2 separate regions of the Homo sapiens genome follow, and region 2 is linked to region 1. The links come from fine-mapping of genetic effects on gene expression. A gene starts in region 1. The other region holds a variant in brackets. All regions are shown on one strand. Distances are between the middles of the regions. Region 1 holds the start of BICD1 (BICD cargo adaptor 1). Region 2 holds the start of LOC105369725 (a long non-coding RNA gene).

What was found. PIP is the estimated chance that this variant, and not a neighbour inherited with it, causes the effect.
Region 2: its variant is fine-mapped to the expression of BICD1 in whole blood (INTERVAL, PIP above 0.99).

Annotation. Positions count from the first base shown.
Region 1 is chr12:32,099,452-32,115,032 of GRCh38, forward strand. BICD1 (BICD cargo adaptor 1) reads left to right here and starts at 7,396. Exons shown (of 10, transcript NM_001714.4): 1 at 7,396-8,093. The coding sequence starts at 7,881. BICD1-AS1 (BICD1 antisense RNA 1) reads right to left here and starts at 8,011. Exons shown (of 3, transcript NR_185992.1): 1 at 7,943-8,011; 2 at 5,225-5,322; 3 at 4,666-4,839. RefSeq lists a silencer at 6,919-7,398 and enhancers at 7,759-7,838, 8,366-9,003.
Region 2 is chr12:31,947,920-31,963,500 of GRCh38, forward strand. LOC105369725 (a long non-coding RNA gene) reads right to left here and starts at 11,385. Exons shown (of 2, transcript XR_931503.2): 1 at 11,209-11,385; 2 at 10,574-10,885. RESF1 (retroelement silencing factor 1) reads left to right here and starts at 11,496. Exons shown (of 6, transcript NM_018169.4): 1 at 11,496-11,572; 2 at 12,858-12,952. It also overlaps the pseudogene RPL12P32 and the pseudogene LOC100132543. RefSeq lists silencers at 963-1,163, 11,467-11,806, 14,150-14,209 and enhancers at 4,389-4,890, 9,118-9,617, 9,621-10,414, 15,136-15,581. The variant T/C (reference allele first, on the strand shown) is at 7,872.

The DNA.
Region 1 (15,581 bases):
GACTGGGGTAATGGGGTGGAGGATGGGGATGGGATAGGAGGATGACAGCTAAAGGGTACTGTGGGGAAAAGCAAGAGAGATCAGATTGTTACTGTGTCTGTGTAGAAAGAAGTAGACATAGGAGACTCCATTTTGTTATGTACTAAGAAAAATTCTTCTGCCTTGAGATTCTGTTAATCTATGACCTTACCCCCAACCCCGTGCTCTCTGAAACATGTGCTGTGTCAACTCAGAGTTGAATGGATTAAGGGCGGTGCAAGATGTGCTTTGTTAAATAGATGCTTGAGGGCAGCATGCTCCTTAAGAGTCATCACCACTCCCTAATCTCAAGTACCCAGGGACACAAAAACTGCGGAAGGCCGCAGGGACCTCTGTCTAGGAAAGCCAGGTATTGTCCAAGGTTTCTCCCCATGTGATAGTCTGAAATATGGCCTCGTGGGAAGGGAAAGACCTGACCGTCCCCCAGCCCGACACCCGTAAAGGGTCTGTGCTGAGGAGGATTAGTAAAAGAGGAAGGAATGCCTCTTGCAGTTGAGACAAGAGGAAGGCATCTGTCTCCTGCCTGTCCCTGGGCAATGGAATGTCTCGGTATAAAACCCGATTGTATGCTCCATCTACTGAGATAGGGAAAAACCGCCTTAGGGCTGGAGGTGGGACCTGCGGGCAGCAATACTGCTTTGTAAAGCATTGAGATGTTTATGTGTATGCATATCTAAAAGCAGAGCACTTAATCCTTTACATTGTCTATGATGCAAAGACCTTTGTTCACGTGTTTGTCTGCTGACCCTCTCCCCACAATTGTCTTGTGACCCTGACACATCCCCCTCTTTGAGAAACACCCACAGATGATCAATAAATACTAAGGGAACTCAGAGGCTGGCGGGATCCTCCAAATGCTGAACGCTGGTTCCCCGGGTCCCCTTATTTCTTTCTCTGTACTTTGTCTCTGTGTCTTTTTCTTTTCCAAATCTCTCGTCCCACCTTACGAGAAACACCCACAGGTGTGTAGGGGCAACCCACCCCTACAGGGTACAGGTGATTAAAGTGGACAAGGGCAGCCACTGAGAGAGCTGGTATCCAAGCAGCTTGGAGATGAAGTCCTGGCCCCAGAAGGCACTGGTGTGGAAGCCACACATCTCCCTTGAAAGTGCATCTGGAGGTCTCACTATGTGAAGTGCTCTTGAAGGGAAGATTTCCCACCGGCCATTCACAGCAGAGCACCCCAGTGCCCCACAGATACACCCTCTCATTGTGTGTTATCCCTGCCATCATTTCTGGGGACATGGAGTTGTCTGATTAGGCTGTCTCCACATCTTAAATTTTTTGAGATGGAGTCTCGCTCTGTTGCCCAGGCTGGAGTGCAGTGCCACGATCTTGGCTCACTGCAACCACCACCTCCCAGGTTCAAGCAATTCTCCTGCCTCAGCCTCCCGAGTAGCTGGGACTACAGGTGTGCGTCATCACACCTGGCTAATTTTTGTATTTTTAGTAGAGACAGGGTTTCGCCGTGTTGGCCAAGCTCATCTCAAACTCTTGACCTCAGATGATCTGCCTGCCTTGGCCTCCCAAAGTTCTGGAATTGCAGGCATGAGCCACTGCGCCCAGCACACATCTTAAATTTCTATTCATGCTGTAATCCACTACAACCTGGTATCTGCCTTCTCTGTTCCACACAAATGAATCTTATCAAGAGCACCCACCTCCATGTTGCCAAATCCAGTGACATTTTGTGTCCTTATAGTACTTGGCTGTGACCTCTTGTTGGCACTGACTTGGTCCTTATTCCCTCGCTCCTCATACACACTTCTCTTTTGTTACCTTTCAAATGTTTCTCTCCTGATTTTCCCCCCACCCAGTCCCTCTCAACTCTCTTTGCTGGCTTTTCCTTTCCAACTCAACCTTTAATAGGGATACTTCAGGGCTAGATCCTAGACCCCTTTCTCTTCTTTATTTACATCTTTCCCTAGATAATCCCATCTGTTTTCCATGGGTTTCAATGCCCTCTAACGCTAGTGATTTTCAAAGCAAAGTCATCATACCTCCTAAGAAGTCTCTTCTTAATTTTTGTCTTACATCAAATTATTGACTTAATATTTCTATTCAAATATCTCAAAAGTGGCTGGGCACGGTGGCTCATGCTTGTAATCCCAGCACTTTGGGAGGCCAAGGCAGGCGGATCACCTGAGGTCAGGAGTTCAAGACCAGCCTGGCCAACATGGCAAAACCACGTCTCTATTAAGAATACAAAAATTAGCTGGGTGTGGTGGCACATGCCTGTAGTCCCAGCTACTTGGGAGGCTGAGGCAGGAGAATCGCTTGAACCCGGGAGGCAAAGGCTGTAGTGAGCCGAGATCACGCCACTGCACTCCAGCCTGGGCAACAGAGGGAGACTCCATCTCAAAAAAACAAAACAAAAACCCCACAAATGTTTCAAAAGTGTCTTAAGCCTAATATGTTCAAAATAGAACTCTTGATTTCTTAAAACTGTTCCATCTAACTAAATGGCGGCCCGTCTTCCCAAGTCAGAAAATTAGAATTTATTTATGATTCCTTTTTTCTCCCTATCCCACATTCAGTCTTCAAAAAGGTCTTAAGAATTCTACTCTCCCATTCCACTCCTTCCTCAATATAAATCCATGTACTTCTTTTCCCAGCTGCTATCATCTCAGTCTAGGCCATGATTTTCTTTTTCCTGGACAACTGCAACAACTTCCTAACTAGGGACCCTACTTCTATCTTTTGATATCTTCCAACTTTTTTGTGTGTGCAGTAGAAAAATTTTAATTAAAAAAATTTTTTTTGTAGGGACGGGGTTTCACCATGTTGTCCAGGTTGGTCTTGAACTCCTGGAATCAAGCAATCAGCCTGCCTCAGCCTCCCACAGTGCTCTGGGATTACAGGCGTGAGCCACTGCATCCAGCTGACATTCTTAAAATACAAATAGAACTATTTCATTTCCTGACTAAAGAATCATCAAAGGCCTCCCCTGAGAATAAAACCCAAATTCTTCATTCTGACTTGCAAGGCAAGTATAATTCCCGCCTATCTCTCTGATGTTGCCTGACTTCTTGATATAGTCTTAGGCCATTTCCCTTGAGCTTCTTAATCCTCAGCCTCTTTCATTTTTTTTTTTTTTTATTTGTTTTTGAGACAGGGTCTTGCTCTGTCACCCAGGCTGGAGTGCAGTGGCACGATCATGGCTCACTGTAGCCTTCACTGCCAGGCTCATGGGATCGTCCCACCTCAGCCTCCCAAGTAGCTGGGACTACAGGTATGCACCACCATGCTCGTTCGATTAAAATTTTTTTTTTTTTTAGTAGAAATGGGGTCTTGGTATGTTGCCCAGGCTGGTCTCGAACTCCTGAGCTCACATAATCCTCCTACCTTGGCCTCCCAGAGTGCTGAGATTACAGGCATGAGCCACTGCACCCAGCAGCCTCTCAGATTTTTATTCTTTGCACTCAACAAGCTCTTTTCTGCCTTTGGCTTTTACACATTATTTCCTTTCCCTGAAAAGCTTCTCCCCCACATTTTGTATATCCGACTCCTTTTTGTTCCTCATAGATAATAAAATGAATATCACTTCTTCAGAGAGATCTCTACTGATTATCTTTTTTTCTTCTTTCTACCTAAATTTTATCCTTGTTTTTCTTTTAAAACTTTTAAAAAGCACATATAAAATGCTTATGTGTGTGATACTATTCTATTCACAACAATCTCATAATTAGATTATATTATTATCTCCTTTTTAGATATGACACAACTGAGAAACACACAGCTAGTAAGTGGCAAAGTTGGATATGACCCAAGTAGACTAGCTTGTGCTTTTTTTTTTTGCTTTTTTTCTTTTCTTTTTTTTGAGACGGAGTCTCACTCTGTCACTTGGGCTAGAGTGCAGTGGCGGATCTCTGCTCACTCCAACCTCCAACTCCCGAATTCAAGTGATTCTCCTGCCTCAGCCTCCCGAGTAGCTGGGATTACAGGCGCCCACCACCACACCCAGCTAATTTTTGTATTTTTAGTAGAGATGGGGTTTCACCATGTTGGTCGGGCTGGTCTCGAACTCCTGACCTCAGATGATCCGCCCACCTCGGCCTCCCAAAGTACTGGGACTACAGGTGTAAGCCACCGAGCCTGGCCTTTTTTTCTTTTCTTTTGGTGAGTCTTGCTTTGTCACCAGGCTAGAGCACAGTGGCACAATCAGTACATTGCAGCCTTAATCTCTTGGGTTCAAGCCATCATACTGCCTCAGCCTCCTAAGTATTGGGGACCACAGGCATGTATTACCATGCCCAGCTAGTATTTTTTAATTTTTTGTAGCCATGAGGTCTCGCTATGTTGCCCAGGCTGGTCTTGAACTGCTGGCCTCAAGTGACCCTTCTGCCTCAGCCTCCCAAAGTGCTAGGATTACCAGTATGAGCCACCACACCCAGCCTAGGAATGCTTTAAGAAATTATTTTCTATATACCTGTCATTGATATATATGCAATACATATGGCATATACGAAAAAAGAGGGAACTGTAACTATGCAGTACTGGAACAGCATGGTGTATAGGAAAATAAATTTGGCTGGGCATGGTGGCTCACATCTGTAATCCCAGAACTTTGGGAGGCCAGGGTGGGAGGATCACTTGATCCCAGGAGTTTGAGACCAGCCTGGGCAACATAGACAGACCCTGTCTCTACAAAAATTTAAAAAATTAGCTGAGTGTGGTGGTATTCATCTGTAGTTCCAGCTACTCAGGAGGCTGAGGTGGGAGGATCGCTTGAGTCCAGGAGGTTGAGGCTGCAGGGAGTCATGATCATGCCACTCCACTCCAGCCTAAGTGATGGAGACCCTGTCTCAGAAAAAAAGAGAAAAAAAACAAGAAAATAAGTTTATCTTCTTTACGTTAAATACCAACATTTAAGGATCAAAGTTCAACTAAGCAACATCTTAAAGTGTCAGAGTGTGCAAGACATGCCTGAAATCAGACAAAAGTGACAAGTGACAAAAGTGTATCAATCAGAAAAACGGGGCAGGATAGAGCATAGGGGCTGGACCACAATGGAAATTTAGCAAAAAGGAAAGTCACAGAGGCAAACTCTGTTCTTAGTTTGATCCAAAGGAGAGGGAGGCACAGGCAATCTAGTGCGAGTCTTATGATCCCTTTGGAAGGCCTATGCTTACAGTTTGTAGAGTGAGGAACAGCCAGAGGCTTCCTGGGAAGGCAGGTTAGCTACCTGCAATTGCAGGTTCCATCTCTTTTCAGCAGTTCATCATCATTCATCAACGTGTCAGAGGTCAGATGCCACGGGAGCACACAGGAGGGGCTTCCCACCTGGAGTGCGAGATAAGGAAAGATGGGTCGGATGTTGTAGTCATTATCATCCGCTTCTCTACAAGGCTGGAATTTATGGTGGCTGCACATTTGGAATGTTTTCTCCTTTTATTTATTTATTTTTAGATCAGACAATCACAAGAGAATATTCTTTTGTTTTATTTTTAGATCAGACAATCACATGAGAATATTCTGTTGTGATCGCTGGCGTTTAGAAGGAAACTTGTCTGGTTTGTGAAGCAATGGAAAACACATCCAGACAGCCTGCTAGTGGAAACTTTGGAAGGGCACTGTCATATGCTTTTTCTCCCACGCCATCAACAAGTGTCCTTTTTTTTTTTTTTTTTTGAGATGGAGTCTCTGTTGCCTAGGCTGGAGTATAGTGGTGCCATCTGTACCCTCCACCTCCTGGATTCAAGCAATTCTCCTGCCTCAGCCTCCCAAGTAGCTGGGATCACAGGCGTGCACCACCATACCTGGCTAATTTTTGTATTTTTAGTAGAGATGGGATTTCACCATGTGGGCCAGGCTAGTCTTGAACTCCGGACCTCAAATGATCCATCCACTTCTGCCTCCCAAAGTGCTGGGATTATAGGCGTGAGCCACTGTGCCCGGTCAACAATCATCTTTTTTTTTTTTTTTTTTTTTTTTACCAGGTACACAATGATGGGAGAGTTGAGTCCTGCTTTCTAACTTAGAAAACGCATGTGTGTTCATCACCTGGTCACTGAGAAACAGCTCTGGAATAGGTGCCATGCAGAAGAAGAGAGGGAACTGGAAAGACCCACTGATCTGTGGGTCTCACAGCCTCCCGTTACACAGAAATTGCTTCTTTTCTCTCATGTTGCGTTCTTCCTCTTGATTCTCGACCCTTCTCCACTCTTTCATTTACTCCACTCTTACTTTGCTTTCACCTCCTTTTGTAACCGTTCATCATCACTCTTCATATGGATTAATGTGATTATCTTAAAAGCATGTAATATGTAGTTGCTGGGTTTGTATGAGTAATGAGTGAACCTGAAGCCAACATAATGATCCCGTTTAGTGCTCCCGAGTTAAGATTCCAGAGTTGCCTGACTTTGGACAAATCACATCTCCCTTTGCCTTTCACCCCCTGTAAACTGAGGATAATGGCTCTTACCTCAAAGCATTGTTAGGATTGGAGAGAACGCATGTTACATACTTAGAAGAATGCTTGGTATGGGTCTCAAGAACTCTTAGCTCTTATTGTTTAAAAAATGCTTATTACAGGGCATCGTTGGTATCTTATATAGGGAATTTCAAGCAGTTTTCCTTTATTGAAGACACAGAGTAAGGTGCTTTGATGGAAACTATTGGGGCAAGATATACAGTACCTAGCTAGAGGTTTCCTGGGTGCATGTATTGTGGAGATATTTTTTTTCTGAGTGGATAGCGCTCTTGTGATACGCTGGGTGAGGGCGAGCAATATTTAGCGGACTGTCCTGTGAGGATAGTAAGGTTATCTGGTGAGAGTGTTAGGTGGCCCAGGCCAGACTTGGGAGAGGCAGGGAGAGAGGGGGACGACGGAGGAGGGCGCCTTGGGGTGCGTCTTGAAAGCTTTGGGAAACCCAGCGGTCTTTTGGGGGCAGGTGGCCCAAAAAGCCTTCTGCGCGCCCAGGGGACGAGGAGGATGCGCGGACCGCGACCGCGATAGTTTTGTTTGCTTTTCTCGGGAGAAAGCGTTCCAGGCAGTTTCCTGAGCTTCGGCCCTCGACGTAGCAAAAGAGCCCGGGCGCCCACGCCGCTCTCGGGGTCTTCTACTGCCACCGGGACAAAGCCCTGGGAGGAGCTCCCGCCCCCGCGAGCCGGACAGGGCGGAGGCTCCCCCGCCGCGCGCGCCCCACCGCTTCCCAGTCCCAGACCCGTCGCCTGCGCCTCCTCCTGGCGCGCCTCACGGTGCAGCGGGCGGCGGCCCGCGCGCCCGGCGGGAGGCGCCTCGGGATGTTTCCGTCTGGTCCTTCCCTCCGCCCCCCGCGCTGACTCCATCCGCTCCCCGCCCCCTGCTCGGAGCCGCCGCCACGCGGGAAGGGAGGGAGCCGGCCCCGAGACTGCATCATTCCGCACCGGCTGCTGCAGGGCCAGAGGGAGCAGGTGGAGCGAGAGAGCGAGCCGCGAGCCGGAGCGCGCCAGACCCAGGGCGAGACTGCAGTGACGCGGCCCGGGAGACATGGCGGACGGGCGTCTCTGAATAAGCAGAATCCGGAGCCCCTCGCTACCCGCGGCCGCCGCAGCCCGGGCCATGCCGCACGGCTGCTGACCGCACGCAGGGGCCGGCCCCGAGGACACATGCGGCGGCCTTTGCCGCCTCGCCCCTGACCCTCTGCCCTGTTCTCCATGTTGCATTTCTCGTCAGTTTCTCGGGCGGTGTAGCTGCCGCTGCCACCAGAGCCGGCGGGGCATCGCGCTGCTCATTCATCCGGCCGCACTTTCTTTTCCGTTTCCACCCATCCCTTCCCATTTCCTTCTCCCTTTCCCCGCCAGCTTCGCATCCATCTCCCCCACCCCGTAACCCCCTCCTGCCTCCATCCACCGGGGCTATGGCCGCAGAAGAGGTATTGCAGACGGTGGACCATTATAAGACTGAGATAGAGAGGCTAACCAAGGAGCTCACGGAGACCACCCACGAGAAGATCCAGGCTGCCGAGTACGGGCTGGTGGTGCTGGAGGAGAAGCTGACCCTCAAACAGCAGTATGATGAACTGGAGGCTGAGTACGACAGCCTCAAACAGGAGCTGGAGCAGCTCAAAGAGGTGAGTTGCCTGTCACCTCTCCCTTTCCTGGCCCTCACTCCCCCCACCCGCAAGGCCCACTCATCATGATCAAGAAGTCATAAAGGAGGTGATTGAAAGGACTGTTTTTTCTTCTAGGGCCCTTTGTTGGTAAGAGAAGATTGAAAGAGTCCATTGTTTCCTCCCCCAAGAGAAAAATTGCCTAAGAAATGAATATATAAGCTGGAATTTGGGAGGCAATGGCTGTTTGGCCTGCGGGGGAGGGAGATTAGTAAGAGTCATCAAGTCTCAGCACTCTAAGACGACATTCAAGTGGGTTGGAATGTATAAATCAAACTTCTCAAAACCGCTGTTATCTCAAACCCAGGTTTCAGCGACAATTTCGTAGTCCACAAAAGTGATGAGGTTTGTGCCTGAGGACCCACAATTTCAGGATTTAGACTGTGTGGCACCTCAGCTTTCCTCTGGATGTAACCACTCCTTGGTGAGAGAGGGAACTCCTCACCAATCCCATTTGACAAAGGCTAGGCAATCTTCATTCTGCTTGGCTTTAGTCATTCTTGTCATTGGGCTGCAGAAGAAAAACAACTTTGCTGGGTGATCCCACTGCCTTGATTTCACCTCGGAGCGAGGCTGGGCCATGTCCAAGTCTTATGAGGTCACCCTGACTAGAAAAAATTGAACTCACCTACAAATAGTCTGAAAGAGTGGTGTATATCAAATACGTGGGTAGTGTTGCATTTCAAATGAGGCTCTTCTGGTTGAAATGATATATTTATAAAACCAGAATATCAAAAATGGGTGATGTATAATGTCTCTTTAGTTTTTTGGTATTTGGCCTCTTTTAAAGCCTGTCGGATGTATGGGAGAAAACAATGAACGTGCTTTGATTTCCTATCAGTCACTCTTAAGAACATACATATTGTTTAAGTAACTCGGTCTTTTTTATCTGATTCTTGAGGCACTATGGGTAGCAAATAACCACTTACAAATTTAAATGTAATATACACTCCTTTTCTGTGTGTCAAGTCCTTATTTTTAGGTGCATATTGACATTTAAATGTTAATTATTGTTTGGCATATAATATCAAAAATCTATTATTTATTTTATGCTGTTACAGTTAAAAGATGTGATTTATGACATACTGAATCAACTTGCCTTCCAATTTAGTGTGTAATATGGTAAGCATTTATACTTTTAGATATGTCTTATTTTTATTTGGATGCCTGTCTACCAAAAAATAAATGTACTACCTATGATTAAAAATCCCAACTAGGAATCTAATTTTTGTGTGTCAGGCTGTAAATTTCTGGTTCCTATTTTACTTACCATGTACCTGTCTGGTCTTAACAACAGCTGGACTTGTTTATATTTTCCAACTTAGATTAGGCTGACATGTTTAAATGCAGTGATGCTAAACCTTGTGAAGTGAGGAAGCAGGATGATGACTGTCATTCTCAGAGATGTTTTGATATTGTCTATACCTATCAACACTGCTTTGCCAAGATAGGGAAGTGCAAACCAGAAAGTGGTAAGCCATCACCTTCTTGATAAAGGAGATGGACTTAATTTAATGAAATGTACCTCTTACTGACTTTGCTGCTTGATTTAAACAATCCTTCTAGGGATATTTCTGTCATTGCACTTACCTTGCATAGCAAACCTTAATGCAATTGTGTTTTGCCTTTGCTACACCATGAGCTTTGCATCCCAAGTCTTTAACACAAAAGCTAGCACACAGTGGGCATGAAATATTTTATGAAAGAATCAGTTTGTACTAGAAGAAGGCACACTTTTATCAAGGGTTCACTAGTCAATATTGATTAGTGTTAGATAAATACTAAGAAAATTAGGATGTATAGGAAGTGACAGATGTTAATAAAACTACCTGTATTAGTTTCACCAGCAGTAATGAGAAAAATGTGAAAAAAACGTTTTGTAGGAATAATGTAACTGTGGTTTCTTAATACAGAATAATGCAAATACCAACTAAAATTTTTTCTATAAATATTTTAATATATATTTTGTTCTATATAGCAGGAGGTTAATAAAAATTTACCAGCATTATTTTTACTAAACGATTCTTGTTCATATATTTATTTTCAGTTGCATTTAGCATAAGTGAAATTCGAGATTCCTAAAAAACTGGTTTATACAGTTATATAAAAATGTATTTTAGGTAATAAAATTATTATAGTTGATTATTTGATAGTGAGGCCTATTATTTTTATTCTTTAAACATAGAATATACTTTAGTTGGAAATATAACTTAAATGAGTTAAATTGATTTCAAGTAACATTTCTTGTATGAAAAGTAAATCCAAAATAATTGTGCAAACTGAGGTGTTCCAACACCTCAGTTTTGAAAAATATTTTGTGAGTGTTTTGATTTTTCAAAAGAAAGTTTTGCTCATCAGGTATGTATAGTAAATGATGTTGCATTATATCTATAAAGCCAAGCATAAAATAAATCTTTGCTTATTTCTAGGATTTTTGAACAAATATGATTTATTTAAAAATAATTGAACCAGTTTATGGGAATGTCAACAGAAAACTACTGTATTAAGTCCAAATTGGACATTAGTAATTTGCAGTATAGCAACATGGCTCAGTCTTTGCAGATCATTTTGTTTTCCAGAGTCAGTACCCACCAATGTTGCTACCTTCCTTCCCAGGCTAGGTACTGCTGTGACAATAATGCAAGTCGGCAGTGTTGCCTAAAGATGTGCAAAATCAAGAAGATGAAATTCATTAAATTTTTTTCCTAGTTATTTCTTCCCTCAACTCAATTGTTTTTTGACCTGGCCTGATGTTGTTTAGTGCTCTGCATGGACTACTGTAATTCAGCTCACAGAAGAACACACTTGAAAGAATAGTACTAAGGATTTGAAAAAAGGATGACTTCTGACATCATCAAAGTGTTCTCCTTTTCATGATTCTTTGGGCAGCTGGACAGAGCAGTATGTCCACTAGAATACTTGAGTCTGGTTTTGTGATTTCACAAGTAACACTTGCTCTTCAGTGACCTGAGTGAGGGTCACCCATGCCCAGTTATGTTCAGGGCCTGGCTGATTATATGTTTGGGATGTACGTAAATCAGCACTGTGCGCCTGTCACCCAGGCCAGAATAGTGTTTGAAGAAGAGTCATAGCTCCAAAATAACCTGAAAACTAAAAATATACATATATAAAAATACCTTGGATCTAAACTTAAGAGTTTTTTTTACACCGCATGTTCTCACTCATAGATGGGAATTGAACAATGAGAACACATGGACACAGGAAGGGGAACATCACACTCTGGGGACTGTTGTGGGGTGGGGGGAGGGGGGATGGATAGCATTAGGAGATATACCTAATGCTAAATGACGAGTTAATGGGTGCAGCACACCAGCATGGCACATGTATACATATGTAACTAATCTGCACGTTGTGCACATGTACCCTAAAACTTAAAGTATAATAATAAAAAAAAAGAGTTTTTTTTTAACTTAAAAATGGTTGAAATTTAAAATGTTGTAAAGTTGAAAAAGAGCCCCTTAGAAAGGAATGATTCAGCATTACTGATGGCATTTTAAAAAGGAAATGTATCTGTGAGACAGCTTTAGAAAAGTTTTGCAGCTTGGATACCGTAAACTATGCACTAATGAGCTTCAACCCATTTTCTTGCTTATTTTGTCAACCCTGACACCAAGGATAGTTACCAGCTGCTGAAGAAGCACTTTCTGGACATTGGGCAGCTTTTTCTTTTGGAGCCAACTCTATTCTTTTTCAGGGTTATAGTTAAATCATTCAACACAAAAATATGTACTTACACAGTTTTAGAGCTTGTCACATTGGTGACCTGATGAATGCCACTTAAATTACCTAGATTCATCTTTAAGCAGAATTGTTTTCCCTTCAGATGCTTAGAAAGATTGTTAGTTTCTTTTATATCTTTAAGTTCTAAATCACAAAATCATATGGCAAGAAAAACCCCAGATTTCTTTTCCAATCTATGAATAAACATAAAGAGACAGTTAATACTTAATTGATCTATCTGAACTATGATTTTTAACTTCTCTCATTGTTTTTATTTTTTTATTTTATTTTATTTTATTTTGAGATGGAGTCTCGCACTTTCACCCAGCCTGGAGTGCGGTGGTGTGATCTCGGCTCACTGCAAGCTCCACCTCCCGGGTTCACGCCATTCTCCTGCCTCAGCCTCCGGAGTAGCTGAGACTACACGCATTCACCACCACACCTGGCTAATTTTTCGTATTTTTAGTAGAGATGGGCTTTCACCTTGTTAGCCAGGATGGTCTCGATGTTTTTAAAGAAAAAATATTTACATTTATTATCAAATTAATCTTAAAATCTAAAATACATTAAGATATGCTTTTGGAAACTGTTTACAAACAACCTCAACAAATAAACATCATCGCTTTCAATCACATTTCTTTTTTTCTGGACCCAGTTGCTCTAACTTGCACTATCCCTTTTTTTTTTTTTTTTTTTTTTGAGATGGAGTTTCACTCTTGTTGCCCAGGCTGGAGTGCAATGGTGTGATCTCGGCTCACCGCAAATTCTGCCTCTTGGGTTCAAGTGATTCTTCTGCTTCAGCCTCCCGAGTAGCTAGGATTACAGGCATGCGCCACCACACCTGGCCAGTTTTGTATTTTTAGTAGAGATAGCGTTTCTTCATGTTGGTGAGGTTGGTCTTGAACTCCCGACCTCAGGTGATCCGCCTGCCTCAGCCTCCCAAAGTGCTGGGATTACAGGCGTGAGCCCCCACGCCCAGCCCCTTCTTTTTATTTGAAATCAAGATTTCGTCTCTGGCGAAGTTATTTCTCAGATATAACTTAGCAAGAATTTATCATCTTTTATCACATTCCCCATGTTTATGTGAACATGTATGACAGCGATGGTTTGAAGGTTTCTTCAGAACTTTCTGCTTGCAAATATTTTGCCCTATCATCCCCTTAAATATAGTTGTACTCATGGATATTGCTTTCCAAATTTGAAAATACGGTAATTAATTACTTGCATGTTGAAATATACATAAAGGACTTGCCCACACATAAGATTCCACCTGTAATTATGGCTTTGAGGAGAGGAGGGCATGAAGGGCTGCATAGTCTTAGTATTAAATAATTCATTACGCTAAAGGAGAATGCACGTAAAGTCAAGTGGCAGGAGATGCAATTGTGAAAGGGCCATGGCCACATTTTGTCTTGGGGATGTGGAGCCATTGAAAATAAATGAAACAGTCACTGTGTTTAATCTCACCAGTCTTCAAAACAATTCAGAGGGCTTACTGCTCATTTTTACTGATAAGAAGATAATAAAAATAATAAAGCATTGACTTAGGTACAAGGCTCCATTTAGAACTAGGTTCTTTACAAGCCTCACCTCTAATTCATGCAGCAATCCTTACTCAAGGTAGGTGTTTCTTGCATTATACAGAAGAGGAAACTGGGTCTTAGAGAGGTTTAGGTCTCTTCCCAGGGCCACAAAACTAAACGATGAAACTTGGAAGAAGCCCACTTTTTTTTCACTGCATCATACTACCTTGAATATGAAATATCTCTGCCAAGTCTACAAGTGCAGTATAGAAGGTTATGGTGATGGTCATAGTGGGTGGATTGAGGCTGTGTGGTGGGACAGACAGTGGCAGTAGGGATCGTGAGGAGGGGGCACGTCTAAGAGCTATTTGGGAGGTAGGGTGGAACAGGCATTGGATGTTACTATATGTGGAAAGTGAGGAAGACAGTGGAGCTGAGAATCTTCTCAGGCTGGATAGGAGGTGGTTCTATTTACAAAGGAAGGTATTATGGGGCAGAGCAGTTTTAGAGGGTGAAATTGATGCTCAAGTTACATGAGTTTCTGTTGTTTTTGACACAGGGTTTCTCTCTGTCACCCAGGCTGGAGTGCAGTGGTGCTGTTACAGCTCACCGCAACCTTAACTAACCATCCTGGCTCAAGTGATCCTCCCATCTCAGCCTCCCAAGGAGCTGGGAATACAGACCCATGCCACCATGCCTGGCTAATTTTTTTTTGAGACTGAGTCTCCCTCTGTTTCCCCAGCTGGAGTGCAGTGGCATGATCTCAGCCCACTGCAACCTTTGCCTCCTGGGTTCAAGTGATTCTCCTGCCTCAGCCTCCCAAGTAACTGGGACTACAGGAGCATACCACCATGCTTGGGTAATTTTTTTTTTTTTTTTTGAGCTGGAATCTCACTCTATCACCCAGGCTGGAGTGCAGTGGTCTGATCTCAGCTCACTGCAACCTCCACCTCCCAGGTTCAAGCGATTCTCCTGCCTCAGCCTCCTGAATAGGTGGGACTACAGGTGCCTGCCACCATGCCTGAATAATTTTTTTTTTTCCAAGACAGAATCTCGCTCTGTCGCCTAGGCTGGAGTGCAGTGGCGCAATCTCGGCTTACTGCAACCTCTGCCTCCCGGGTTCAAGTGATTCTCCTGCGTCAGCCACCTGTAGATGGGATTATAGGCGCGCGCCACCACGCCTGGCTAGTTTTTGTATTTTTTTTAGTAGAGACAGGGTTTCACCATGTTGGCCAGAGTGGTCTTGATCTTCTGACCTCGTGATCCACCCACCTTGGCCTCCGAAAGTGCTGGGATTATAGGCATGAGCCACCGCGCCCAGCCTAATTTTTGTACTTTTAGTAGAGAGAAGATTTCAAACATGTTGCCCAGGCTGGTCTGAAATTCCTGAGCTCGAGCGATCTGCCTGCCTTGCCCTCGTAAAGTGTGGAGATTACAGGCATGAGCCATTGTGCCCAGCCACATAAGTCCTTTTAATTCATGTTTTCTTTGCTGGGGAAGCGTACATTGCATGATGGATTCAGATCCTCAACTTTCTTTTTTTTCTTTTTTTGAGATGGGGTCTCATTTTGTCACCTAGGCTGGAGTACAGTGGTGTGATCGTGGCTTACTGCAGCCTTGACCTCCTGGGCTCAAGCAATCCTCATGCCTCAGCCCCCAAGTAGCTGGGACTACAGGTGCACACCGCCATGCCTGACTAATTTTTGTATTTTTTTTGTAGACACAGGGTTTTGCCATGTAAGCCAGGTTGGTCTAGAACTCTTGAGCTAAGGACAGTCCGCCTGTTTTGGCCTCCCAAAGTGCTAGGATTACAGGCTAACTTTCAATTTAATAAAAAAAATTAATTTGTGCAATTGGTTGTTATTTTATAGAAGCCTAATTTCTAGAATATGGGATATAAACAATTTAATAATGTTTTCACCAGTTAGTTTGATTGCTTTCTAAATTAGGAAAAATGAAAACAAATAAACGATGGGCAAAAAAGCTGACTGGGGACAGTAAGGTCTAAGAAGGCAGCCTAAGTGGAAAATTAGCCCTTACTCACCATTTAGGGTTATGGGGGCTGGGAGCAACAGTCCTCACTGCTCACTGACTAATCTTTATCAATCTTATTTAATCTTTATTGAAGATGCATTAGCATTTTTAATTTAAGTGGGTTTTTTTCCTCTTTTCTTTTGGTGGGGGG
Region 2 (15,581 bases), 150 kb before region 1:
TTGGGCAAAAAGAGTCATATTTTTCTTGTTGCAGAGGGCCTATAAACGGACATGCAAGTAGGAAACATATCGCTAAATTCTTTTCCTAACAAGGAATATTAATATTAATACCCTGGGAAAAGAATGCATCCCTGGGGGGAGGTCTATGAACGGCCACTCTGGGAATGTCTGTCTTGTGCAGTTGAGATAAGGACTGAGATAAGCCCTCCTCTCCTGCAGAATCCTTAGGCTTACTAGGGTTGGGAAAACTCAGCGCTAGTAAATTTGTGGTCAGACTGGTTCTTTGCTCTCAAACCCTATTTTCTGTTGTTTAAGATGTTTCATCACTCTCAGCTTTCACCTCAGAGGAGGCCAAGGTGCAACTTTCTTTAGTCATCCCAAATCCAGGTTCATCTGACACCAGCCGCCTCCACCATGCCACCGAAGTTCAACCCTAATGAGATCAAAGTCGTATACCTGAGGTGCACCGGAGGTGAAGTCAGTGCCACTTCTGCACTGGCCCCCAAGATCGGCCCCCTGGTCTGTCTCCAAAAAAGGTTGGTGATGACATTGCCAAGGAAACAGGTGACTAGAAGGGCCTGAGGATTACAGTCAACCTGACCATTCAGAACAGACAGACCCAGATTGAGGTGGTGGCTTCTGCCTCTGCCCTGATCATCAAAGCCCTCAAGGAAGCACCAAGAGACAGAAATTAATAGAAAAACATTAAACACAGTAGGAATATAACTTTTGATGAGATCGTCAACATTGCTTGACAGATGCGGCACTGATCCTTAGCCAGAGAACTCTCTGGAACCATTAAAGAGATCCTGGGGACTGCCCAGTCTGTGGGCTGTAATGTTGATGGCCACTACCCTCATGACATCATAGATGACATCAACAGTGGTGCTGTGGAATGCCCAGCCAGTTAAGCACAAAGGAAAATATTTCAATAAAGAATCATTTGACAACTAGAAAAAAAAAAAAAAGATGTTTATCAAGACAATATGTGCACCGCTGAACATAGGCTCTTATCAGTGGTTCTACTTTTGCCCTTTGCCCTGTGATCGTTGTTGGACCCTAATCAGTGGTTCTGCTTTTGCCCTTTGCCCTGTTCCCTCAGAAGCATGTGATCTTTGTTAGACTCTTATCAGCGGTTCTGCTTTTTGCTCTTTGAAACATGTGATCTTTGTACCTACTCTCTGTTCTTACACCCTCTCCCCTTTTGAAACCCTTAATAAAAACTTGCTGGTCTGAGACTCAGGCAGGCATCACAGTCCTACTGATATGTGATGTCACCCCTGGCAGCCCAGCTATAAAATTCCTCTCTTTGTACTGTCTCTCTTTATTTCTCAGCCAGCCAACACTTATGCAAAATAGAAAGAACCTACATTGAAATATTGGGGGTGGGCTCCCCCAATAGAAAGGCAGGAGGAAGTTGAGGGCCAGGGGTCTAGGATGTAAGTTAATCCCGGGTTAGGCAAGAGATGGAGAAGAGATTTAAACGTTGGCTTTTAGGTCCTCTATATTTTTATTGGCCTTTTCTAATAAGTCCTTAATAGAAGCTATTTTAGAATTTTCCTTTGAGAGGACTCTTCCTGGTCATTTAAAAACGCTAATTATTGAATATCTGGGAACATTTAACCATTGACTGTAAGGTGCCAAAAACAGATTATCTTATTCACATCCAAAGTTCACCAGAACAGCCACTAAAGTTCTAGAATGTCCTTAGTAAGATTCTGCCATAGGATCCAATATTTAATTCTATTTACCGCACAACATTGAGCTCATATTCAAATAAAAAGAACAAAGAAGAAATAAATACACAGGCCCCAAAATTCTCTTGGAACTATGAGCCCAGGTCATCTGTGAGAACCTTGAGTAGTAAAAACAAATCATATCCAGAGGCTTATACCAAAGACAATAAAGGTAACGAAGGCTTAAGTGGGGCTGGGCATAGTGGCCCACACCTGTAATCCCAGCACTTTGGGAGGGCCGATCACCTGAGGCCAGGAGTTCAAGACCAGCCTGACCAATATGGTGAGACCCTGTCTCTACTAAAAATGCAACAATTAGCCAGGCGTGGTTGCCCGGACCTGTAGTCCCAGCTACTCAGGAGGCTGAGGCAGGAGAATGGCTTGAACCCGGGAGGTGGAGGCTGCAGTGAGCTGAGACTGTGCCAGTGCACTCCAGCCTGGGCAACAGAGTCAGACTCAGTCTCAAAAAAAAAAAAAAAGGCTTAAGTAGGCACAGTAGCTCACACCTGTAATCATGGCACTTTTAGAGGCTGAGGTGGGTGGATCACTTAAGCCCAGAAGTTCAAGAACAATCTGGGCAACATGGTAAAACCACATCTCTACAAAAAAATACAAAAATTAGCCAGGCGTGCTAGCACACACCTGTGGTCCCAGCTACCCTGGAGGGTGAGGTGGGATGATCTCTTGGGCCTGGGAGGTTGAGGCGGCAGTGAGCCGTAATTTTACCACTGCACTCCAGCCTGGCAACAGAGTGAGAACTCATCTCAATAAAAAAGAAAAAAAAAAGGCTGAGGTGATGATTCAAAGTTGTGAGACGGTTGGAAGCAGGGCTCATTCAGCTGAGCAGTCCCTGTGACTTGTAAAGGAGAAATAAAAACATCTTAGGACCCCCAAACTTGTTATGCAGCAGTGCTGGGTCATGCAGCACTGCTATCCTTTTCCCAAATAGACAGCTATTACTTTACAACCTGGTGTCAAAGCATCATACATTACCCAGACCCTCACAGAAAGGCAGAAGGTCTGATACCATCTCCACATGATGGCCCTCATAAATTTTTCCCAACTAAACTCTTTGCTGGCCTCAAAACCTTTCAAGATGTACATCCTCCCATAAAACAAGAACCATGTCCATTTTAACTTTAGGTCTACCATCTAAGTCTAGCTCCTAAAACTAAAGTTTGCTAGAGTCACACTGATAATGTCAATTACAAGCTGATCTTCCCAGGAGCAGAACAAATCATTCCTCCACCTACCCTGAGATGTTTGCATAATTGATTCTTCCTCTACTCCCTTTTTCTCTGAATTCTTTATAATATAATCACCTTATCTGTATAAAATGTAGATTTACTGAGCTCTAATTAATTAATAGTTCCACAAAAGTATAACCATTTGCCTCACCACCCTACCCCCTCCTTCCCACATGCCTTCTCCCCTTTAAAGAAATGTATAAATACTGTATTAGTCCGTTTTCACACTGCTATAAAGAACTGCCTGAGACTGGGTAATTTACAAAGAGATTGAATTGACTCATAGTTCCACATGGCTGGGGAGGCCTCAGGAAACTTACAATCACGACAGAAGAAGGGGAAGCAAGCTACCTTCTTCAAAAGGTGGCAGGAAGAAGTGCTGAGCAAAGGGGGAAGAGTCCCTTATAAAACCATCGCATCTCAAGATAACTCACTCAATATCACGAGAACAGCATGGGGGAAACCACCCCCATAATCCAATTACCTCCACCTGGTCTCTCTCTTGACACATGGGGATTATAGGGATTATAATTCAAGATGAGATTTGGGTGGGGAAACAGAGCCTAACCACATTTTACATATTTGATTTTTTAAAATATTTGATAACTTTCATTTTGAATTAATTTCCTTTGTAATCTCACATATTTTATTTTATGCATTCAAAAGATTATTCTGGCCAGGCATGGTGGCTCATGCCTGTAATCCCAGCACTTTAGGAGACCGAGACGGGTGGATCACTTGAGGTCAGGAGTTTCTGACCAGCCTGGCCAACATGGTGAAACCCTGTCTGTAATTAGCCGGGCTTGGTGGCCCATGCCTATAATCCCAACTACTCAGGGAGGCTGAGGCATGAGAATCTCTTGAACCTGGAAGGCAGGGGTTGTCGCTGAGATCGTGCCACTGCATTCCAGCCTGGGTGACAGAGCAAGAATCCGTCTTAAAAAAAAAAAAAAAAAAAAAAAAAGATTCTAAGAAGGTGTCCATGGGCTCTACCAAACTACCAAAGAGGTTTATGGTCAAAAAAACAGAGAAGAGTTCCTGCCCTCAGGAGTTATTTCTTTTTTTTTTTTTGCATGGTTGAAATTAAGTTACTGCCATTTCTACATTCCAATCCAAGCAAATGTAAGAAGAGTTTCACGGTAAGCCATTCCCTTAGGCAGAAGTTGCATATAACATTTCTGCTTATATGTCATTATGAGAACTGAAACTTGACAACATCTAGCTGCAAGAGAGACTTGGGGGAATATAATCTCTACTTACATTCCAAGTGACTACATACAAACTGACTTTGTACCCAGCTAACCATTACTAACAAGAAGGGGAAAGAAACAAAAAAGAAGGGGAGGCCTGGCGTGGTGGCTCATGCCTGTAATCCCAGAACTTTGGGAGGCTGAGGCAAGCAGATCACTTGAGGTCAGGAATTCTAGACCAGCCTGGACAACATGGTGAAACCCCATCTCTACTAAAAATACAAAATTGGCCAGGTGTAGTGGTGCGGTCCTGTAATCCCTGCTACTTGGGAGGCTGAGGCAGGACAATCGCTTAAAGCAGGGAGGCGGAGGTTGTAGTGAGCCAAGATCATGCCACTGCATTCCAGCCTAGATGACAGAGTGAGGGTCTATCTCAAAAAAAAAGGAAGAACGGGAAACAGATTATAGGGAGCAATCAAGAAAAGAAAAAGAACTAATGACCTCATTTACAACTTAAATGAATAGGCATTTTTTTTTGCAAACCAAAATAACTTTTACTATAGATATGTTAATGATGTCATTAAAACATTTTCTAAAACATATTTTATAAGTTTAAGAGTTAACAAGCCTTGGCCAGTTTCGGTGGCTCACGCCTGTAATCCCAGCACTGTGGGAGGCCAAGGCAGGTGGATCACAAGGTCAGCAGTTCAAGACAAGCCTGGCCAAGATGGTGAAACCCCATCTCTACTAAAAATACAAAAAATTCACCGGGCCTGGTGGCGGGTGCCTGTAATCCCAGCTACTCGGGAGGCTGAGGCAGAGAATTGCTTAAACCTGGGAGATGGAGGTTGCAGTGAGCCGAGATTTTGCCACTGCACTCCAGCCTGGGCGACAGAGCAAGACTCCGTCTCAAAAAAAAAAAGACTTAACAAGCCTTAAGGCTAAGTACTATGCTCATGAAAGACTCAGATAGCATCTAAGAGAGCCTTTGTTTTTGAATGCTGGGAAACATAGGGAGAGGATCCCGTAATTTATGAAAGGGAGCATAGTATGGAGCAATCTAATCTATGAGGGGAATCTTTCCCAAGCCTGACCAGTTGACAAGGCTTTCTGGCACACTAGGTTGTAAATCTCTTAGAGAGAAGACAGTGTAAAGCTTGGCTCTTGAGTAAACAAACTTTCAGGTCCATGAGATTGCATTCTCCCTTTGCAAGTTTCTTACTGGTGACCATTTAAGACTACTCTATTGATGAATATCACTTGTACTTTAAGACTGTGCAAAGATCAAACACTTTTGGAAAAATCAGACAACCTTTACTTACCTAGCAGAGAGAGGATAAAATCAGCACAAGTACAGACAAGGATACATGGCAGAGAGATCAGCTACTTTATCCCAAATGCTTCCCAGACATTAAATCCTAACGGACACTAAGCCCTCCTTAGGCTGTATAGGAGTGGGGTCCCTATCAGAATTTCCGGCAACAAAAGTCCCTCTCCTTGGGTTTGTTTTTACTTGCTGACCTGCGTGGCTAGGTGCTAGAAAATCCCTTATCTGAGCCAAGTGTGTCCAGCTATGTTCCAGGAACTGCTCCTAGTGAGGTATATGTACTAATTCATGTAACTATCTCAAAAATTAAATAAGGTAAGTATTATTGTTATCCCCATTTTTCAGAAGAGCGAAAAAACAAAAAAATGAAGTGATTTTCCCACAAAGTTCTATCACTAGGGAGCTGCAAAACAAGATTCAAACCTTGGGGCATACTTAAGAGCACTGAACAGGTTTGAGCCAAAGAGCCATTAGAGGGCCAGAGCCGGGTCCTGAACCAACAATAGACGGAGATGTGCTAGACACACTGGAGGTGCTGGGGTATAAGGGACCATTGCTAGAGGAGCAAGCCCTTATGAAGGCAGCAGAGTGGACTATATGTAGGAGCATATACGGTATAGGATTATATATATAGGCTTTTATACAGGAAGAAGGTGGTATATACTGTAAAGGAATAGATATATAAACTATATAAATTCCTATACAGGATATGGTTAGGCTTTCAAATAAAATCATTATGCAACTTGGAAGAAAGTATGACTTCTGCTGGAAGAGATGATCTAGAGAGCTTCCAGCTTGAGGTAAATGATTTTTTTAAAAGAAATGGCATGTCCATATTCTGTACTCATATCAGGAGATACTAAAGATCATTTTAAAAAAGGAGGACTGGCTGGGTACAATGGCTCACACCTGTTATCCCAGCACTTTGGGAGACCAAGGTGGACAGATTGCTTGAGTCCCAGGAGTTCAAGGCCAGCCTGGGCAACATGGTGAACCCCATCTCTACAAAAAATACAAAAATCAGCTGGGTGTAGTGGTGCATGCATGTTGTTCCAACTACTTGGGGGCCTGAGGTGGAAGAATTGCTTAAGTCAAGGAGGTCAAGCCCACAGTGAGCTGAGATCGCGCCACTGTAAATAAAAAAATATAAAAAGGACTGTTTGAAACTCCTATTATTTTTAAGTACAGAACTTGAAGCTTCACAGATATTACAGAACAAGAAACATTAAAATTCTCAATTAGATAAAAATAATGAAATTTATCAGGAAGTTCAAGTTCTGTGTGATAACCTTGGTGTACCCAAGTAAACAACTTCTGACATTCTGGTTATGCTAAACCAAGTGGAATCAAAGGTGAAAGACAGGCAGGACGCAGTGGCTCATGCCTATAATCCCAGCACTTTGTGAGGCAGAGATGGGAGGATCTCTTGAGCCCAGGAGTTGGAGACCAATTTGGGTGACATAGCAAGATCCCATCTTATTTCAAATTTTTAAAAATTGTTAATTTTTTTATTAAAATTAAAGAAAACCACTCTGCTGAAAATTAATTTAAATTTGAAACAGGCAGAACAACTGGAAAGAGTCAATGATGCTCTTTCCTGTGAACATGAGTGCCTCTAGCGAATGTTATGAAACAATTAGATGCGGCAATACAGTCCGTTGCACGGTGTGATACAGCCAAGGTAAGAAAAGATGACACAGCAAGAATTTACCAGCCTCAGTGTTATGCTTTGTCACCCAAGACAGCGATTATAATGGTGCATCTACTTGCTGCTCATGATAATCTATCCAAGATCATTAGGACAAGCAGTGGAGCCAGCCAGATGATGGCATGTGCCATTAATAAGGTGCTGATGGGAAGGGTGCCTGACAGGGGAGGCTGGCCAAATGAAATTGAACCACCACCCTCTGAAATGCCCCCTTGGCAAAAGAGACAAGAAGGCAGTGGCGGAAGGGGTGGTTGGGGTGGTGGTTGTGGAGGTAGAGGTGGTAGTAGAAGAGGCTGTGGGGGTGGAGGTGGAAGAGTTGGCTGGGGTAGAGGAGGATGGGAAAGTGGTGGGGGAGAGGGAGGAGGTGGGATGGAGGTGGTAAAGGAGGTTTCTAAGGCAGAGGAGATGATGGTGGGAGGGGAGATTATGGTGGAAAAGATTATGTAGATCCATATGGAGGAGGTGGTGATGGTGGTGGATATAGGAGATACTGAAGACTACAAAAATTAAAAACCAAAACCAACAAACCTCAAGCGCAAAGGAATAGTCTGCCCTCTTATGTCACAAGCACTAACTAACCACCTCTGCCCTTTCTCATCCCTTAATCATTCAGACAAGATTTCCTTGTTTACTTCCTCCTATAAAAACCCTAAGTCTATTTCA[T/C]TTTCTTTGAAAAGATTCCTCTGCATTAATGGATGTTGTCCTTACTACAATAGCATGAAAAAAAAAAAAAGTCTCCTTAATGCAGCTTAGCAATTTTCCAGGCTTGATATCAGTGACTCCATCTTGGGCTATTGACTCCATGCTGAGCTGCTGCTAAACTTTGAGGCCCACGAAGAAACTGTGAAAAATATTTCCTTCACAAACAACTGTTATAAATAAAGTTTTGGTGTTGCAAAAGAAATAGCACTCGAATATAAATTTTCTTTTTAATTCTCAGCAAGGCAATGTACTTCTTTTTTTTTTTTTTTTGAGACAGAGTCTTGCTCTGTCGCCCAGGCTGGAGTGCGTGTCGCAATCTCGGCTCACTGCAAGCTCCGCCTCCCGGGTTCATGCCATTCTCCTGCCTCAGCCTCCGGAGTAGCTGGGACTACAGGCACCTGCCACCACGCCCAGCTAATTTTTTGTATTTTTTAGTGTTAGCCATGATGGTCTTGATCTCCTGACCTCATGATCCGCCTGCCTCGGCCTCCCAAAGTACTGGGATTACAGGCGTGAGCCACTGCGCCCGGCGGCAATGTACTTCTATAGACGGGTGCGCCCTCACAGATGGAGCAATGGTGAGCTCACACCTGGGCAAGGGAGGGGAAGGGGTTCTTATTCCTGATGCACGTGGCCTCTGCTGCTGTGTCGTTCCCCTGTTGGCTAGGGTTAGACCGCACAGGCTAAACTAATTCTGATTGGCTAATTTAAAGAGAGTGATGGGGTGAGCGGTTTGGCAGGAAAAATGGTTAAGGCGGGGCAGGAAATCGGAATGAGTCAGGGTGGAGCAGGTGATTGAAATGAGTCAGGGTGGAGCAGGTGATGGAAAAAGGTTGCTTTACGAGGAAGTTAAGTTTAAAAGTAAAAGGCAAAGATTGACCATACTGACATATTGATTCTTTGAAGAGAAATTTAGAATTCATATCTAACACAACCGTTTTTGCAACAACACACAACCCAAGAAAGCTGGTCTCAATATTATTATTATTATTATTATTATTTTCCGAGACAGGCTCTTACTCTGTCACCCAGGCCGGAGTTCAGTGGCTCAATCTTGGCTCACTGCAACCTCTGCCTCCCAAGCTCAAGTGATCCCCCCATCTCAGCCTCCCAAGTAGCTGGGACTACAGGCGCATGCCACCACTCCTGGCTAATTTTTTTTGTTTTTTGTATATTTTTTGTAGAGATTGGGTTCACCATGTTGGCAAGGCTGCTCTCTCAAACTCCTGGCCTCAAGTGATCCTCCCCAAAGTGCTGGGATTACAAGCATAAGCCACCACGCCTGATCCCCAATCTTTTTTTGTTTGTTTTGTTTCATGAGACAGACTCTTTCTGTGGCCCACGCTGGAGTGCAGTGGCGTGATCTCGGCTCACTGCAACCTCTGCTTCCTGGGTTTAAGCAATTCTCCCGCCTCAGCCTCCCGAGTAGCTGAGAATTACAGGTGCCCACAACCACGCCTGGCTAATTTTTATATTTTTAGTAGAAACAGGGTTTCACCATGTTGGTCACGTTGGTCTCAAACTCCTGATTTCAAGTGATTCACCCACCTCAGCCTCCCAAACTGTCAGGCCTCTGAGCCCAAGCTAAGCCATCATATCCCCTGTGACCTGCACGTATACATCCAGATGGCCTGAAGCAACTGAAGATCCACAAAAGAAGCGAAAATAGCCTTAACTGATGACATTCCACCATTGTGATTTGTTTCTGCCCCATCCTAACAGATCAATGTATTTTGTAATCTCCCCCACCCTTAAGAAGGTTCTTTGTAATTCTCCCCACCCTTAAGAAGGTTCTTTGTAATCTCCCCCACCCTTAAGAAGGTTCTTTGTAATTCTCCCCACCCTTGAGAATGTACTTTGTGAGATCCACCCCCTGCCCGCAAAACATTGTTCCGCGGAGCCTCTCCCAAAACCTATAAGAATTAAAGATAATCCCACCACCCTTTGCTGACTCTCTTTTCGGACTCAGCCCGCCTGCACCCAGGTGAAATAAACAGTCTTGTTGCTCACGCAAAGCTTGTTTGGTGGTCTCTTCACACGGATGCGCGTGACACAAAGTGCTGGGGTTACAGGCCTGAGCCACCACACCTGGCCACCCCCAATCTTTAAGAATATTCTGGCCGGGCGCGGTGGCTCATGCCTGTAATCCCAGCACTTTGGGAGGCTAAGGCGGGCGGATCAAGAGGTCAGGAGATCGAGACCATCCTGGCTAACATGGTGAAACCCCGTCTCTACTAAAATACAAAAAATTAGCCGGGCATGGTGGCGGGCGCCTGTAGTCCCAGCTACTTGGGAGGCTGAGGCAGCAGAATGGCGTGAACCTGGGAGGCGGAGCTTGCAGTGAGCCGAGATCGTGCCACTGCACTCCAGCCTGGGCGACAGAGCGTGACTCCGTCCCCCCCCCAAAAAAGAAAGAATATTCTGTATGTAGTTTTTTTGTTTTGTTTCTGACAGACGCAAACGCACTCTTCTAGTAATGACTAAAGACTTCTTCGTTTAATTCACCAATGAACTAATCTGACAATTTATGTAACAAATAAATTCCTATAAACATAAGCTCCCTTGCCCCTCTCCAGTGGCACAATCTCTGATTTGCCATCCTGGTTGCAACCTTCATTACTAAGTAAACGCTTACGTAAACCTTAATAATGAGATTCGGGCAATATGATTAAATATTGGTTTATTTGAGTGCAAAGTTTGAGGATGGCGACCCGGTAGGACACAGACTCCAAAAGATGGGGGTCAGTGCTTCGAAAGGGAGAAGTTTGAGGGTCGTTTACACAGGCAGGGTCTGGGAAGCTTAACAGGATGTCAACATTTTCCATAGAAGGTTAACGCATAGCAATTTGATTGGTTCAAGGCAGTGTTTCTTTTTGGGAAGGGTCTATTTAACATTCCACATTAAGGATGTAATAGTCAAGCGGTCATTTATCTTATTCAATGCGTATTTTATCTCAGATGCCATCTGGTCTGAGCTGGGAACAAGAAAATAAGGGAGTTAATCTATAACAAAAGGTCGGCAATTAAGAGGTCGTGCTTCGTGATCTGGTCTCCAAAGTCAACTTTCCTCAGGGACTTTCAGAATCCCCAAATAGACTATCCACTTTCTTTCACACTTATTTGCCTCTAACTTGTTGATTTCTTTTTTTTTTTTCTGTTTTTTAAGGGTTAACAATCTCTTGGGTGCACTCTGACTTCCATGCGCTTTATAGAAAAAATTGGTCCTGAGGCCAGCAGCAACAGTCGGTCTCAGGAACTTGTTAGAAATGCACATTTTTCAGCCCCACCCCAAACCTACTGAATCAGCAGTTTTGCTGGTGGTTCTCAATCTCTCTTTAACGTGCCCTCTGGGTGCTGCGGATGCACGCTGAAGGTAGAAGATCGCTGCAGGAGATTTCCGCGTCGGGCAGATGAAAGCGCTCTGCAAGCCCGGGTGTTATCTGCGGGCCGGGTCCGCGGCTTCTCTGGTGGCACTAGGACCGCGGCGGCGCGGCCCTCGCAGCCACCGCCTCGGGCGTGAGGCGGAGCGTAGCTGTTCCTGGATCCTGGGCCTGGCTCCTCGACCCGCCCCTGGAGGCGGACCCCACTTGACTTAAACTCTGGGGCCCGGGAGGCCGCCGGTTTTCTCCCCGCTTGCCGGGGTGGTCCTCTTCCCTTTGTCGGTAAGTGTGAGACGAGCACCCCGAGGTCCCTCCGCCTTCCGGGGTCCGGGCGGGGCGGGGGCCGGGAGCCGGGAGCCAGAGGCACTCGCGGTCCGGGCCTGCGCGCGGCGCAGAGCGCTTTTGTTCTGCGGCAAAGACGCAGTCGCGGGCGGCCCCGGAACCCGGGCCTCGGGCCCCGCCGGCTCGCGCGTCCCGCCGTCCGCCCACCGGAGCTGGGCCGGGCCGCCGCGCTTGCTTCTGCCCGCCGCACCGGGGCCGGCCCTGGGCCTCCGCGGATGCCGAGCCTTGCACCGGAGGGCGGGCCTCGCTGGCTGTTTTCCCTCATTGCCTGGCTCTGCGCGGTAGAGGTCGCGAGTGGCGAAGGCTAGGACGCATTTTGTCGAACTGCGAGGCGCGGCTGGTGAGGCGGGTGGGTATGAGAGCTGCTTATGTTTTTAAGGCTTTCCTGTCGCTGGAGTGAAAAAGAAAAATCTTTTTTTTTTTTTGCTATTTCCCGAGGGTTCTCCTCCTCCCCGGCCCTCTTAAGCCGAAGCCTCCTGGAACAGAATTGCTGTACTGGCATCTATCTCCAAGTGGTCCGCGAACGCTTCTGCGCCGGCGATGGTTTCTGTTCCTCAGCAATAGTTCCTTGAGGCATTTTTAAATGCACAAACGCATACCCATCTTAGGTGTTCTCGAGGGACACGGATTCCCTAAGCAAACGTCCTTAGGGTCCTGAGTTCAGCAGCAAACTTTCGGGGAATCATTTCCGTGAAAACAATTTATTTGTAGTACATCGAGTGCATACTGTCTTAACATAAGGATGTGTATGAGCTTGAGGCGCATTTTCATTTAGTGGCGGGCGGGTGCATTTCAGTAGGCGGGCCGCAGAGCTTGTTTGGGGATTGCATTTTTCTGCTAAATGTGTTAGCTTTAATCATGTTTCAGTCACTGTTAATGTGCATGCATGTTAAGGTTTTAGGTTTTTTCCCCTGTGCAGTCGGATTTTTTTCTGTTTAATATTAATCCAATAAAGACAAGTGCAGAGATAAAGTATTATTGTTTTGCAGTGATACTACAATAGCGGACCTAGAGGAGCGCACATAAATTCTAACTTAAGTGAATGGTATTTTCAGGCCAGACCTAGTTTCTATTTCTGTTACTTAGGACACTTAATAAGAATTCAGTAAACTTAGCATGCTTTCAGTGCAGCCATAAAAGAAAACAGTTTTGCACAGCAGTGTCATATCTAGTAAACACATTAGCATGTGCTCTTTTATTATAAAATGTTTCTTGCTGTCCCTAGGACCAAAGAAGTAAACACTGTGTGGAGAGGGACTGACGTGTTTGGAGGGAAATGGGAATGTACACGATAATTAAAGAGTAAAGTTGTGCTCAACGGTAAGTGTATCACCTCTAAGAAACCCGCCCTGATTTAACCAGGCGGTTATTCACACTCAACTATGGAGTAATTCACCTATTACCGAATAAAATTACTAGCTCAGTGAATCAACATCGGTTTTAAATTAAACTGTGGGTCACAATGGAATTGACAGCAAAGCTTGAGAAGAAATGTTGTTGGCATAGTACTGAAAAATCAGTTGTTAATCTTAGCAAAATAAGGAAAGAGGTCTTTGGTAAGGGAATTGTGGTGGAAGTTACCTGGGCAGAGGTCTGCTTCTGTCTGTGCTGTGTTTATTTGATTGTTTTTATTATATTTTATTACTGTTGGTGGCACATAGGGGAATGTGGCGCAGAGCACCACTCTGGGAGGATGCTTCCCGTGCAGCCAAAGTGATCATGTCCAGGGCTTTCATCTGTAACCACAAAGTGTGTTAGGAAGTCTCACCTAATGATTAAGACCATGGTCCCTGTAACCACACTGCTTTGGTTCAGATCTTGGCTGTAGCACTCAGCCAACCCTGGAAAATAAACCTCTGCCTGTTCTCTCATCTATAAAATGGGGACAAGCACTAATGTCATAGGATTGTTATGGTAGAGTTACATGAGTTTCATGCATATCACAGTTAAACAGCTCCTGATGCATGGCAAGTGCCCAATAAATGTTAGCTATTGTCATGTTAGAGGAAATAGATTTTGTGGCCTGGGACATGTAATGCTGCCTTAGCAGAAATTCAGCTGGTTCATTTAAGCTCTAAATTTATGAGCTTTTTATTGATTAAACCCATCACTGTAGATCCTCTTAGATTCTCTTTTTTGTAGGTCTTGTTTTGTTAGGAAGTACCTGTCACTACTGGTCCACATCTGGATTTACCTGCAGGCTTGTTTGGAATAAAAAATGCCTCCAAATTCCTAGGCAGGACAAACTTGCCCCAAAGCTTTGTTGTTCTACATTATCTCTGTGATTGTACAGGAATCTCTCTTCCCTCCTAGATTATCAGTGTCTTGGATATAATTGGAGCTCAAATGCTTAGGGAATTGATTTAATGTTGCTTAAAACGTATTTGTAGGCCAGGTGTGGTGGCTCACGCCTATAATGCCAGCACTTTAAGAGGCTGGGGCAGGCAGATCACTTGAGGCCAGGAGTTCGAGACCAGCCCTGGCCTCAAGTTGGCCAACATGGCAAAACCCCATCTTTACTAATAATAACAAAAATTAGTCGGGCGTGGTGGCACATGCCTGTAATCCTAGCTACTCAAGTGGCTGAACCCAGGAGGTGGAGGTTGCAGTGACCTGAAGTCACCCCATCGTACTGCAGCCTGGGTAACAGAGCAAGATTCTGTCTTTTTAAAAAAAAAAAAAAAAAAGCATTTGTGAAGGTGAATTTCAAGAATCTAATCAGGCCTCCCTCCCTCCCCCATTAGAGGCACACTCTATTATGTAAAACAGACAGGGAGTGTATTCATTTTGAGATAAGTCCAGGATAACAGTTGACTAACCCTGGCTATAGATACGCAAGTTAAACATTCACTTTGGAAGAAGATTGTGAAGAAAGAATCTTGGACCTTGAGGAATTCTAAATGCTTTGTTGGGTGGCAACTATGCAATACTTACACTATTCCTAATACCTTAAGTGTACTTGTAAGTGAAGAGCAAAGTTGGAGGCTGTTGAGGTAAATAATCTCAAGTGAGATTGGAACTATACATTTTATGCTCCTGGTTTTCATGATCGCAAAGATTTAATGACAGTAACTTAAGATTCTCTTGATGTATCAAATTACAAGGTTTCATTTGTAAATAAGGTGATTAAAATGACAAAGTGTATTAAAAGAAATTGTATTGTCCAGTGAAGTTTTAAGAAACAGAAACCATAAGGTGATTATTATTTTTCAAGCCCCAAAGGAGAATTCATTAGATGACATACTTTTAAAGTTCATGGATCAGGGTCGGGTGCGGTGGCTCATGCCTGTAATCCCAGCACTTTGGGAGGCCAAGGTGGGCAGATCACCTGAGGTCAGGAGTTGGAGACCAGCCTGGCCAACATGGTGAAGCTCCATCTCTACTAAAAGTACAAAAAATTAGCCAGGCGTGGTGGCACATGCCTGAAATCCCGGCTATCCGGGAGGCAGAGGTTGCAGTGAGCTGAGATCGCGCCACTGTACCCTAGCTCGGGTGACAGAGTGAGACTCTGTCTTAGAAAATAAAGTCCATGGGCTGGTCGCAGTGGCTCACGCCTGTAATCCCAGCACTTTGGGAGGCCAAGGCAGGTGGATCATGAGGTCAGGAAATCGAGACCACCCTGGCTAACAGGTGAAACCCCAAAATTAGCCAGGTGTGGTGGCATGCGCCTGTAGTCCCAGCTAACTCAGGAGGCTGAGATAGGAGAATTGCTTGAACCCAGGAGGGGAGGTTGCAGTGAGCTGAGATCACACCACTGCACTCCAGCCTGGACGACAGAGCGAGACTGTCTCAAAAAAAAAAAAAAAAGTTCATGGAGCACAACCTTTGGGTTTTGATGGATCCAGGATCTAAATCCAAAAGAGAGTTTTAAAGATTTGGGACACTGTATCTTTGAGCTCTGCTGTCCTCTGCTTTGGTTTTCAGGCAGACCATCCCTCCACTGGGCAGC